Regions from separate parts of the Homo sapiens genome. Here region 1 is linked to region 2. Evidence: fine-mapped expression QTL. Tissue or cell type: iPS cells. Region 2 holds a variant in brackets; the other region holds the start of a gene. All regions are shown on one strand. Distances are from middle to middle.

Region 1 (5,000 bases), 80 kb before region 2:
GGTTCTATCTGGTACAGAAAGGAAGTGTTACTGTTGTCCTAGAAAATATGTTTCCGTCTGAAAACAAGAAAATCTCATCTCTATGGCAAACTACTTAAGGGCATTAATTAAAATGCTTCAAGGAAAAATTAAAACCAAAGATGATCTTTTGTCTAAATAAAACACAAGGTATTTTTAGAATCTAGATTATAACTTCTCTCATAATAGCAAAACAGTATAAACGGTCAGACTGTTTTCTGAATTCATCTTCAACCTCCCTAGAATTTAAGTAATATTGTCCCCATTTTAGAGATAAGGTAGTTGATGAGATCATACCACAAGCCAATTTACTAAAATCAGTGTTCCACTTACTAACTCACATAAATATATTTAAAAAACTAAATTTAAGAATAAAGTTTAATGACAGTGAATTAATCACCCTTTTGGATATAAGGTTTGCTGTCTAGATCATCACATCCTCTTTGTTTATTCTAAGGCTCATTACCTCATTTGCTGCAGGGCCCTGGCTGGGTTGGAGCCCATTCGGTCCAATTTGTTAATAAAAGTTAGAAACGGAACGTTGTAGCGCTTCATCTGACGATTGACAGTCATGGTCTGGCACTGTACCCCTCCAACAGCACAGAGAACAAGGACTGCACCATCCAACACTCTCAGGGCCCTTTCCACTTCTATTGTGAAGTCCACATGCCCTGAATAAGATGAAGTATGAGAGGGTCTTAAAGAGCAATCTGAATTTTTAATATATGCACTATTAGAAGTTTTTGTATCTCTGCTCATCACATAAGTCTTCTAATAAGAATGTAGATTCCTGAGCTCACCAATACTATTCACCAACCCTTAGGTGCAGGGCCTGGCAAGATCACTTCAAGAAAATACTAGGGCACAGGCACCTTTAGAATCAGCTAGAATATGTAAAAGGCAAGAATCTGCCTACTCACAATTTACTTGCACAAATTTTCAAGAAAACTACATAAGGATGAAGTGCTCTAGGTCCTAAGTTAGTCTTCTTTAATAGGAATTCAGTGTTACACTTTTGAGTATTTGACAATCAAAAACTAATTGGGTCACAGTAAGAGAAAGAACCAAATGTGCTTTTGCCAAAGAAGCTGCAATAAAACCAAGAATCCAACTCACCAGGAGTATCTATAATGTTAATATTGACATCTTTCCACATGGTGTAAGTGGCTGCTGACTGAATAGTGATTCCTCTTTGTCTCTCTAGTTCCATGGAATCCATGACAGCACCAACTCCATCTTTACCTTTCACCTAAACACAAGCACAGCAATTCAGACTTTCTCTGTCCCTGCATTCCAAGAAGGAAAGAAATCTTAACTGAAATGGAAACAGTTGCCAGGTGCAGTGGCTCATGCCTATAATCCCAGCACTGTGGGAGACTGAGGCAGGATGATAATTTGAGCCCAAGAGTTTGAGACCAGCCTGAGCAACAAAGTGAGACCTCTTCTATAAAAAATAAAAATAAAACCAGAACACAGATACTTAACTTAAGCAACTTTCAGATAAGCCTAACTGTCAAAAGTCCGCTGTTACCATTGTTTTAATCTTTCAGGTTTATAAGCTTTATTAAATAATAGCAACAAAACAATTAAAATCTGGTTCTAATTAATCCGGAATCAACCGTGAATATATACCTCATGCATCTTTGCAATTCTGCCAGTGTAGTAAAGGACTCGTTCTGTTAATGTAGTTTTCCCAGAATCAATGTGAGCTGAGATTCCAATATTTCGTATTTTTTCATTAGGAATCACCCCTGATGAAGACCATCGGCAGGCCTTCCAATTAACCTGAAAAAAATACGAGAGCTCAATTCTATGCACCTTTTATAAGAGAGAACAACAGACAATTAAAAGGAGTATGGTGGACATTATTCCTCCAAGAAATCTCACTGGATATGAGATAGCTTGAGAAAGGCACCAGGGGAAACCTTTAAGCCTGGAACTCTTGTAATCAGAGGACAGACTTCAAAACAAGACAGTAAAGACGTATTCTTTTAAAATTAATTAATGAATAAGTTAAATTTAATTAAAATGGGAGACACTTTTTACTGCAGATTTGAAAATACACACTGGGGCAGATAAAATCACAAAGACAGCTCCAAAAAATACTTTAATAGAAAATACAAATTTTAGCTTAAATTTAACTTAATTTTTTTCCCTTTCTCCTTTATTGTAGTTCACAGATGACAAATATGTTTGAGAACTTATATGCTCTATGCAGTGATGCTAGTAGCTCCAAGACAGCCCCCAAAGATTTCCAATTCCCTCCAAACAAAAACAATTCATGAAGCTTGTTTTAACTTTACTCTGGTGGCAGGGGATGGGGATCCCTATTAGATGGAATGAAGATACAATATAAACCTTTCCCTATAGGACTGCACATCCAAAATGCACAATTATTCACGGGAAAAGAGAGGCAAAAAAAAAAAAAAAAAACCTTAGAAAAGGTGGATAAAATATCAAAGTATCTGAGTGACAGACACTTTTAGTTGATTAAACCCTAGGGATACCAGAGAGCGAAACAAACGAGCTAACGAGCTAATGTGCAGGCACCGAGGTGCTTTTCAGCACTGACGAGCGACTGCCAGTATTCGGAGCTGTCAGTCATGAGGACCCAGGGGGTGTCACGGCCTTCCATTGCCCAGAAGGGATCACAAGGTTCCGGGAATGGTCCCGATTTAGCCTCTCTATGCTCCGGTACCTGCTTCCTCTGCCAGCCTAGGGAGGCGGGGGCCCTTCCGCGCCCCAGAGCCGCGACGGCTGCAGCTCCCAGGAGTCTCATGGCAAGCGCAGAGCACGCGTCAAAGTCCCGTGGCGCCGGGTGGGTTCAGCTGCCGGTAACGCACCGGGAAGCGGTCAAAGTCACGCCGGCAGCCAATGTTGTAAGAGCACTTCCGGGGCAAAGGACGCGAGGAAAAAGAGAGTGAGGAAAAGAAAGAAGAGCAACTGGATTGGAGGCGGAGCAGTGCCTACGCTGCTCGCGCGCCGTCTGCCGACTTGGAAGAGAAAGTGCAATCGCTTTGCGGAGCTAAAGAAGTGTTTGCTCCCAGTAAGACGGCATAGGTATATGGGTGAGGGAAGGGAGTCCTTTTGTCTTCGTCTTCTTTTTTAAATATTACCTCTGTATGAAGATACAGAATTTAAACATGGTTGTTAGGCCTATAAAGCAATGTGGAGAAATGTATATAACAATTTAAGTAGAAAAGAGCAAAATTGTCTATTACAAATATTAATAGGTATATATATGACATGGCCTGAAAAAGAACGTGGACAAATTATAGTGAATGAACTATCAATTACAATTACAAATACTTTTCCTCATGTCAAAATGTTATTTGTTATTGTTCGATGTCAGACATTTCATGTCCTGTCCATGTGGAAGACTGCATCCTTGACCATTCTGCTTGGATGTGTTAAGAGGCATGTTGAACCTAACAGGTCCAAAACTGAGCTTCGGATCTTCTTCCCCAAACCTTCCACAGTCTTATCCATCTCATAAATGTAAACTTTAGTGATTCTAGCCAAAAATATTAGTCGCTTTGACACCATGCTGTGACATCTCCGGTCTAATCAGTCAGCATATCCTGTAAGCTCTACTTTCAAAAAGACATCCAGGGCCGGACGCGGTGGCTCACACCTGTAGTCCCAGCACTTTGGAAGGCCGAGGCGGGCAGATCACGAGGTCATGAGATGGAGACCATCCTGGCTAACACAGTGAAACCCCGTCTCTACTAAAAATACAAAAAAAAATTAGCCGGGCGCGGTGGCGGGCGCCTGTAGTCCCAGCTACTCGGGAGGCTGAGGCAGGAGAATGGTGTGAACCCAGGAGGCGGAGCTTGCAGTGAGCCGAGATCACGCCACTGCACTCCACCCTGGGTGACAGAGCGAGTCTCAAAAAAAAAAAAAAAAAAAGAAAATCCAGAACTTACTTCTCCCCACCTCTCAGTACTGCCGTTTCTGGAGGGAACTATTGTAATAGCCTTGTAACCGATCTCACTGCTTCTATCCTTGCTGTTGTCAGTGGGCCGGTTCAGGTGCTTGACTTCACCACACAAAAGAATTTGAAAGCAAGTACAAAGTAAGAGTAGGCAAAAAAGTTTATTGTAAACCAAAAGTACACTCTGAGAGGCAGAGTGGGCTGCTCAGAAGAGAGACAGACAGCCTTTAGTATCTCTAGGGAATTCCCTTTATGGGTGAGGCAGGAGAACAGGGTCTAGAGACAGGGAACCGAAGGCCCTGCTGACTTCCTAGAGCTGAACCAAAAGGAAAACCCCACCTCTCCATGCCCAAGTAACAAAAGGATCGGAGGCTACTCCCAATGCACTGCATTGCAGATGAAAAAATGGAAAGTACCTCTGACTGGTCCCCTCTGGCAAATAATCAGACTGGTAGCAGGCCAAGTCCTCATGTGTAACTTTGTAACTTCACTTCAGCCTCTGATTGGTCACCTCCTGCAACCAAGCAGGCTGGTTATGGGCCACTCCTTCATTTACATAGGGTGTAACCAATGGGAACGCTCTAGAGGGTATTTAAATCCCAGAAAATTCTGTAACAGGTGCTCTTGAGCTGTGGAGTGTACTTTTGTTTCAACACATCTGTGCCTTCATTGCTCCATTCTTTCATTGCTTTGCTTATGTGTTTTGTCCAATTCTTTGTTCAAACGCCAAGAACCTGTATGACTCATAGTCAAGACCCTTCACTGGTAACATGGGAGCTGTACATATATATTCATAAAATACTGGTAAGGTCAAGTATGCAAAGGTGGACCTGTGGTTGGCACAGGTACTTGGCATCTACATGTTCTAACACAGGAGTCCCCAACCTCTGGGCCAGAGACCAGTATCAGTCCATGGCCTGTTAGGAACCAGGCCACACAGTAGGAGGTAAGCAGTGGGCGAGCGAGTGAAGTTTCATCTGTATTTACACCCTCTCCTTATCACTTGTATTACCACCTGAGCTCTGCCTCCTGTCAGATTAGCAGTGGC
Region 2 (8,254 bases):
ACTACCCAGTGTTGGGGACTGATCTACGACCTTAGGCATCATTGAACAAAACGGACAAAAATCTCTGCCTTCCCGGAGTTTATGTTCTTGTAAGGACAGACTCAAAATAAACAAAATAGAAAATAGTATATTGTAAGGTGATAAGTGTTAGGGAGAAAAGCTGATCAGGGTAAGGAGTATGGAGAGGTGCAATTATAAATAGCAAGTTTTGTGTACGCCTCACTAAGGGGAATTTGAGCAAAGACCCACAGGAAGGAAGTGGATGTCTAGTGGAAAAGCATTCCAGGGCAGTGCTAAAGTAGCATTTGCCTGGTGTATATAATGTACAGTCCTACTCATATGCCTTAAAACTCACCTTCTGAGTGAGGAATGAGATGAGCCAAGTAAACTGAAAATTGCCTAATAGGGTAATAGCTCTCATTTACACTTCATATATTCCAAGGATTGCACTAAGTGCTTCACATATGTTTTCTCGTTTAACCTTTACAGCAACCATGTCTAATATTATGTTTATCCCTAAATTGCATTAAAAAAAGCTGGGACCCAGATAAATTTGATAATTGAATTTTGATAATTGATTTGAAAGTTGATAATTTGATTAAATTTTGATGATTGAAATTTGATGTCACTCAATTCAAACCCAGATTTGTCTTACCCCAAAGCCTGTATCCTCACCACCATCCGTACTTTGCCTCCCTATTTTAAAAATTAACTATTTATGGAGCAAATATTTGCAGTAAACACTTTTACATCTATAATCTGTAACTACACTGTTGCTTAGGTTTCATTTGGAAGGACACTGACTAAGGAAAAACAGAGAAAAGGATGAAACCCAAGCCAACTCTGCAACTCTATTAAAAACACCAAGACTTCAATATGTAAGTGATTTCGTGTTTCTTTCATTAATTTATCAAATACTTATTAAGGACTAGTAATATCCCAGACATTATTCTAGACACTGAGGTTACAAAACTCCCTGGCCTTTCGGAACTTACATCCTAGTGGACAACTCTTTCCCCAGCTAATTTTACAAATACTGTTACAGCACCTCAGAATTTTCATAATGTTTCTGAAGACATTATCTCAAGTGCCCAAAAGAAAATAAACAGGCTCTTGAGTGCTGAACTTTTAACTTAATTATAGCTTTCCAGAGCCGTGAATATTAGGCCATTACAAACACCTTTACCACAATTAAGCTCAATGTGTCTAGGGTTTCGTTGTCCTAATCCCTTTGTCTTAAACAGTGCACAGAGGTCCTCTGAGAATGAGATGCCATAGCAAACTCACAAGGGGCTATGGGACAAATTTTGAGAGAAACTTGGCATGTGTTAGACATTGTTCAATGTACTAGTTTAGGGCAGTTCACATATTTCAATATTAGATTGCACTACATTGTTTTAGATGATGTCATATCATTGGAAAGGTAGGTTTCTGAAAGTTACTATGATGAAAATGAAGTACCTGTCAATGTGGAACAGGAAAGATTGGTGGCAACATTCAGTCTGTTTCTAAAGTTTGAAAAATTGTGCTGTGCTAGGCGGGCACCCATCTGTTAGTATGATTATTTAAGAATTATACAAAAATATGTTTCTTTCAATTTATGTGCATTATTTTTTAAAGGTACTGAGTTTTTAGGTCAGAAATACGCTGTTTGTATCTAAATTATACAATAACGGACCTATTCAGTATTTCTTTAAACCTAGGGGGCACAATGAAAAAATTACTGAGGAACTAAGGGCTCATGAACTAAGATAGTTTGGGGACCTCTGTCTAATCCCACAATCTTTCTTCAAATTAAAAAGAAATGTAAAATATCATGCATTCCTTTTCTAAAAAATATGTTTCATTTTATTTTTCATGTTTATCTTCTTTACAGTCAGCTGACTTACCAGTCCTCTAACAGTTTTGCTTTATATCTTTTTGAAAGATGGGAAAATGGTGCATACCGATTAAGTGACCTGTAAGAGCATAGATCCCAAGGTCTTCAAACTCCCAGTAGGGCTGCCTCTAGTCCATAATGGCATCTTTGCTCAAATTAGAAAAAGTGCCTCCCTCTCATGATACTTCCATTAATGAGAAATTTGTCTTAATAAATAGACAAGGCTGTAATGTATATGATTTGACTGGTGCTCGCTTAGGTGTTGTATACATGTCCATGGCAGCGCTGTTCCTAATCTTGAATTCTTTCCGCTACATAGGAGTTAATTGAGTGCCAAGCTTCATCCCCAAACTCCCAAACTCATGTGCAAGAAATGTAATTTTATTTTCCTGCAATCAACCTTAATTTATCTTCTGGGCTTACATTCCACTGGGAGTCACTCCCATTTCCTCTTCCACGGAGACAATGCCAAGGTGTAGTTGGTTGCTAGCCATGCTGCATTCCTGAAGTCATCTTTATTGCCCTCACTGGGTAGGGCCAAGGGTACTAAACATCTCACTATGTGTGGCACGGTCTGGCACAATGAATCGTCCTTCCCTAAATACCAATAGCAGTCCTCTCCTTTTAAGAAATACACTCTCTAGAGCAAATATTTCCTCCAGCGAAGTAAAAATTTAACGAAGAATTGAGTTAACAAAGGAAAAAAGTGGCAGACTTTTAAAGTTATATTTACTTTTACAGCTTTTATCTGTAGATGTGTATGCCTATGACTAGTGGTTTATTTTGCACAAATTATAATTGAGGCATATTTTATTTTGAAAACTGTTGAGTAAATACCACTTTTGGGGGGTTGGTAACAAGAGATTGGCTTTAGTGAAAAGATACTAGAGGCAAGAAGCTGGGGCTCTGGGCCCTGGACTTGGGTCCTAGAATTCAGGTGGTAGTGAGGGAGTATGTAAGAATTCAGGTGGTAGTGAGGGTGTATGTAAGCAGAGGAATGTTCTGTTTCAGTGATGGATGGGCAGAGTGGGTGAGGATGACAGAAAAATCTGGAGAGGAAATCAAGATCCGCTATTGGGTCAGGGCTGAGCCAAAGATTATAGTGTTTAATAAGCATAAGCAAAAGTTTTGGCCTTTCCCTCATTTCTTTGATGTACATCTTTGAGGCTTGGTTACTTAGGGATGTATTTCATAATCTTTTAAAAATAATCCTTTACTTTCTTTTTTTGTTTTGTTTTTTTTGGGGTGGAGTCTCACTGTGTCACCTAGGCTGGAGTGCAGTGGCGCGATCTCGGCTCACTGCAAGCTCCGCCTCCCGGGTTCCCTGCCTCAGCCTCCCGAGTAGCTGGGACTACAGGCGCCCGCCACCGTGCCCGCCTAACTTTTTTTGTATTTTTTGGTAGAGACGGGGTTTCATCGTGTTAGCCAGGATGGTCTCGATCTCCTGACCTCGTGATCCGCCCGCCTTGGCCTCCCAAAGTGCTGGGATTACAGGCGTGAGCCACCGCGCCCGGCCTAATCCTTTACTTTCTACCATAAAGACACATACACATGTATGTTCATTGCAGCACTATTTACAGTAGCAAAAACATGGACTCAGCCTAAATACCCATAAATGATGGACTAGATAAAGAAAATTTGGTACATATACACAATGGAATACTACACAGCCATAAAAAAGAATGAGGTGACGTCCTTTGCAGCAACATGAATCCAGCTGGAGGTCATTATCCTAAGGTGATTAATGTAGGAAGAGAAAATCAAATACTGCATGTTCTCACTTATAAGTGGGAGCTAAACATGAAATAAACGTGGACACAAGAGAACAATAGACACTGGGGCCCACTTGAGGTGGGAAGGTGGAAGGAGGGTGAGTACCTACTGGATACTATGCTTATTACCTGGGAGATAAAATAATTTGTACAACAAACCCCTGTGACACACAATTTATCCATGTAACAAACATGTACCCCACGAACATAAAAGTTGAAAAGAATAAATGAAATAAAATAATGATTTAGATAAGTGCTAATTTCTATTCAGTAATAGTTCCTGTTTAAAAAGTATCTACTGGGCTGAGCGCGGTGGCTCATGCCTATAGTCCCAGCACTTTGGGAGGCCGAGTTGGGCGGATCACAAGGTCAGGAGTTCGAGACTAGCCTGGCCAACAATAGGGTGAAACCC[C/T]GTCTCTACTAAAAATACAAAAATTAGCCGAGTATGGTGGCGCATGCCTGTAGTCCCAGCTACTTGGGAGGCTGAGGGAGAAGAATCGCTTGAACCCGGGTGGCGGAGGTTGCAGTGAGCCGAGATCATGACACTGCCCTCCAGCCTGGGCGACAGAGCAAGACTCCATCGCAAAAAAAAAAAAAAAAAAAAAAAAAACCAAGAGAAACAAAGTATCTACCAAGAGTTTTGTAAACTTTTATCCCAACTAATTCTCTCAATAATGCTATGAGGGAGGCATTATTTACATTTTGTGTGTGCGAACACAGAGGTTCAGGTAGGGGAAATGATTTTTAGCTTGCAAGGTTCAACTATAAATGGTCTTCTAGCTGGTGAGTGGTTTAATGTGAATTCTGATCCAGACCTGACCGTTTTGAAGGCCGTTCCCTTCTCACTGCACCCATAGCCAACTCTCATGATAACGAAAAAGGACTTGATGGTGTGGAATTACATAAATGTAAAGCTTCTGGGAGTATCCAAACTTAGGTTGTTTGGTTTAAGTACATAAAGAAGTTTTTCAATTTTCCTGAAAAACAAAACAAACAACACTGAAACTATCATTCAATGAATAAAATAAAGGCTCTTACTCTAAAGACAAATAATTTGAATGGCAATGTCAAATACAAATATACCAATTTTTTTTGGTGACAAAACTCCAACTTTCCACACAGCCCGTAATGGATTCATGTGCAGTTGATGAATGAAAGTCCACATCCAAAGCTTGCTTAGTCTTTACAATTTACGTTTTAAATTGAGGTATAACTTAAACATGGTAAAGTCTACTAAACTTCAATGTATAGCTCAATAGCTTTTTACATATGTGCAAACCTATGTAAACAACACCCAGTTGAAGATATAAAGCATTTCCAATACTCAAGAAAATTCCCTTGTGTCCCTTTCCCATCCATGTCCCTCTAGGGTAACCACTATTCTGAGATTTGTTTCTTTCACTTAACATTATGTCTGCAAAATTCATCCTTGTCATTGCTGTCATTGCATGTAGCAGCAGTTTATTCTTTTTCTTTGTTGTATTCTAGCATATGAATTTGCCACAAGTAATTTACCCATCTACTGTTGATGGATTTTTTGATTGTTCTTTTTTTTGGCTTAAAAAATAAGGCACTATGATCATGCTTGTGTTTTTCCTGATTAAGTTTTAAAAATCAACTTACATTCAGCTATTCTTGAATCTTTATTGTCATTGAAATTCTGAAACTTTTTTTCTACAGACAATAATTTTATAAGAAAGATTTTTCTATTGAGTCAACACCTTGATAGTTGCTACTGTCTTAGAAACACTTCTTTTAAAAAATAAAAAATCTTAGAATTACAGAGCCTAAAACAAGTTGAATAGTAGAAAGCACTCTTCAGAAAATACTGTTGAGGTCATCTGTTCTCAGGAACACTTTAATGTGGCTATCTAGAGTGTTATTTTTAAATCCTTGATAAGATTTGAAGAGAGTTCACACTGTAGTTTGGAGGCCCCACTGCCAAGGCAATCAATTGAAGTCTGTCCAGAGGACAAGTAAATTATTTTGGAAAACATTAAGGACCTGGAATACCTTCATCTCTTTGTCATATGCTTAGATGTCTTTACTATTTGAAATGGTAGGAATAATCACAGAAGAATTGTTTTTAATTTCAAGAAGCTAGAAAGGACACAATAGTCATTATAAGGCCATGTAAGTTTTAATGCCATTTGTGATATATATTCTGGGGTAACAAGGTAAAGGGGAGCTAGGGAATTGAGAATGAGTGGCTCCAACCTATACCTGATTTCCTCCCAATTCATATCTCCCAAAGACCTAGAAATTCCCCTGGGAAACAGCCTCCAGGAAGGCTCACACTGCTGAATGGCACTGGCAGCCTGTTGGGAGAAATAAGACAGCCAAGGCCAGAGGTTGTCGGGCGGGGTCGGGGTGGGGGCGGGGCGGGGTGGAGAATGTTGGGGTCTGCTGTAGGTTGTTAATAATAAAAGCTAAAACCTATGTACTAGGCACATTAATTCACATGTTTTTTTTTTCTTCAACTCCTACTTTAAGTTCCAGGGTACATGTGCAGGATGTGCAGGTTTGTTAAATAGGTAAACGTGTGCCATGGTGGTCTGCTGCACAAATCAACCCACCACCTAGGTATTAAGCCCAGCATCCACTAGCTATTCTTCCTGATGCTCTCCCTCCCCTCCTCCCAGTGTGTGTTGTTGCCCCCAACGTGTCCATGTGTTCTTATCGTTCAGCTCCCACTTATAAGTGAGAACATGTGTTGTCTGTTTTCCTGTTCCTGCAATTCACAACAGTTTTATTACTATTTTACATAAGCGAACACAGGTTTTAGAGAATTAACTAATTTGCAAAAGGCAGTATTGCTGGAAAGTGGAAGAACTGGGATTGGAACTCACGCTGTCTGACTGTAGAATCTGGGCTCTTAATCACTGAGTATAACCTCAGCTGGCCCCACTCACTGCCTAACACACAGGAGACTAGCTGTCTTCTTTACCTCCAGTTGAGGGTAGGGCTTTACCTAGAGTTGGAGTCAAAAACACGAACACCAATAGGGATCAGACAAGTAAAAATGTGAGGCAAGTGAACTAGGTAAGATGATAAGGAGAATAAGAATTAATAATAATAATAATGCCAGGCACAGTGGATCACACCTATAATCCCAGCACTTTGGGAGGCCGAGGTGGGCAGATCACCTGAGGTTGGGAGTTTGAGACCAGCGTGACCAAAATGGAGAAACCCCGTCTCTACTGAAGATTAAAAAACAAACAAACAAACAAAAAAAACAAACAAAAAAAAAAACAACTAGCTGGACATGGTGGTGCATGCCTGTAATCCCAGCTACTTGGGAGACTGAGGCAGGAGAATTGCTTGAACCCGGGAGGTGGAGGTTGCAGTGAGCCGAGATCATACCATTGCACTCCAGCCTGGGCAACAAGAGCGAAACTCCATCTCAAACAAACAGACAAACAAACAAACAAACAAAAAAAGAGTTAATAATAATAATAATAATAACTAACATTTGTTGAGTTTCTACTGTGTGCCAAGCACTGCTCTAAGTGCTTTACAAATTTTAACTCCCTTAATCCCCCAGGTGATCTAATGAGATAAACACTATAAGTATGCCCATTGTGTATAAGAGGATGATACAGGTCAGAGAAGAAAAACTGCTTGCTCAAGGTCACACAGCCAGAGGACCCTAGCTCTTATCACTGTGCTGTATATTCACAGGAACCTGGCATGGTGGGCACAGTCGGGCACTGCAGGCGGCTTGCCTCCAGCAGAAGGAATACTGCTACTCAGCTCTAGATGATTGCCCTGAAGAAATTCATGCCCACTGGTAATATGGAATTGTATATGAAATCTAATTTTTTAAAGTTAACAACTAATTAAAAAGAAAATAGCAGGCCAAACAAATCTTTCGGTGAACCTGGCCCATAGGCTGCAAGCCTATGATCTAGTTAGAGTGAGTTTTCATGGCATGAAAGAGACACATGATCCTGGTAACATTCACATACTGCCTTTTGAGTGTAACTCAAAACTATGTTGATGGCAGGTCTTGTGTTGTGAGAGCTGAGAAGCAAAGTGCCCTGACTCCTAGCAGTAGGCCTTTGTGAGTGGACACCAGTTACCAACCATATCAGTGAAGGGTCATATTTTAAAATTCCAGGGCCATGAGACAGTTGTTTTATTTCTGCAGGATATTTAGATTACAGATTAATTTTTTCATTTGGACCACAAAAGGTTAGCACAGCTTTATCAGGTTCTGTGTATTATATTACTGTTTTAATTCTCTTTAGTCAGTCTTAAAATAGATTGACATCATTTTGGTCTCTGCTTTAAAGTGCCTGCCTTTCAATTTCTTATTTATGAAGACATCCCTCCCTGTATAGCTTTGCAAAATTAGACTCTAATAATGTATATAATAAAATATCAAAAGCCCATATTTCCATATAAAAACAATCTATTAAACTAAAGGTGACTGACTGCTTCCAAAACTTTTTCTCATAATATTAGTCATTTGTTTACTTGTCACTTGTTTTGTCACCTATTGTAGAGTCATAGGTGTTAAACAAAAAACTTGGTAATATTTTTAGGAGAGTCTTTCTTTTACCTTATTTTCTCCTCTTCAAACCTTTATATTTATATTGAA

Which allele goes with the higher level. Alleles are on the strand shown, and positions count from the first base shown. SD is a standard deviation of normalised expression in the study named.
For the expression in iPS cells of the gene that starts at base 2,905 in region 1, allele C in region 2 goes with a higher level than allele T (large effect, 0.80 SD a copy in PhLiPS).

The links. PIP is the estimated chance that this variant, and not a neighbour inherited with it, causes the effect.
Region 1: it holds the start of GFM1, and the variant in region 2 is fine-mapped to the expression of GFM1 in iPS cells (PhLiPS, PIP 0.95).

What each region holds. Positions count from the first base shown.
Region 1 is chr3:158,642,432-158,647,431 of GRCh38, reverse strand. GFM1 (G elongation factor mitochondrial 1) reads right to left here and starts at 2,905. Exons shown (of 18, transcript NM_024996.7): 1 at 2,717-2,905; 2 at 1,651-1,803; 3 at 1,135-1,267; 4 at 485-689. The coding sequence starts at 2,797.
Region 2 is chr3:158,560,584-158,568,837 of GRCh38, reverse strand. MLF1-DT (MLF1 divergent transcript) reads left to right here. Exons shown (of 5, transcript NR_104147.1): 2 at 782-878; 3 at 7,333-7,441. Among named protein-coding and RNA genes, the nearest start is that of MLF1-DT, 6.4 kb to the left of the region's middle. The variant C/T (reference allele first, on the strand shown) is at 4,064.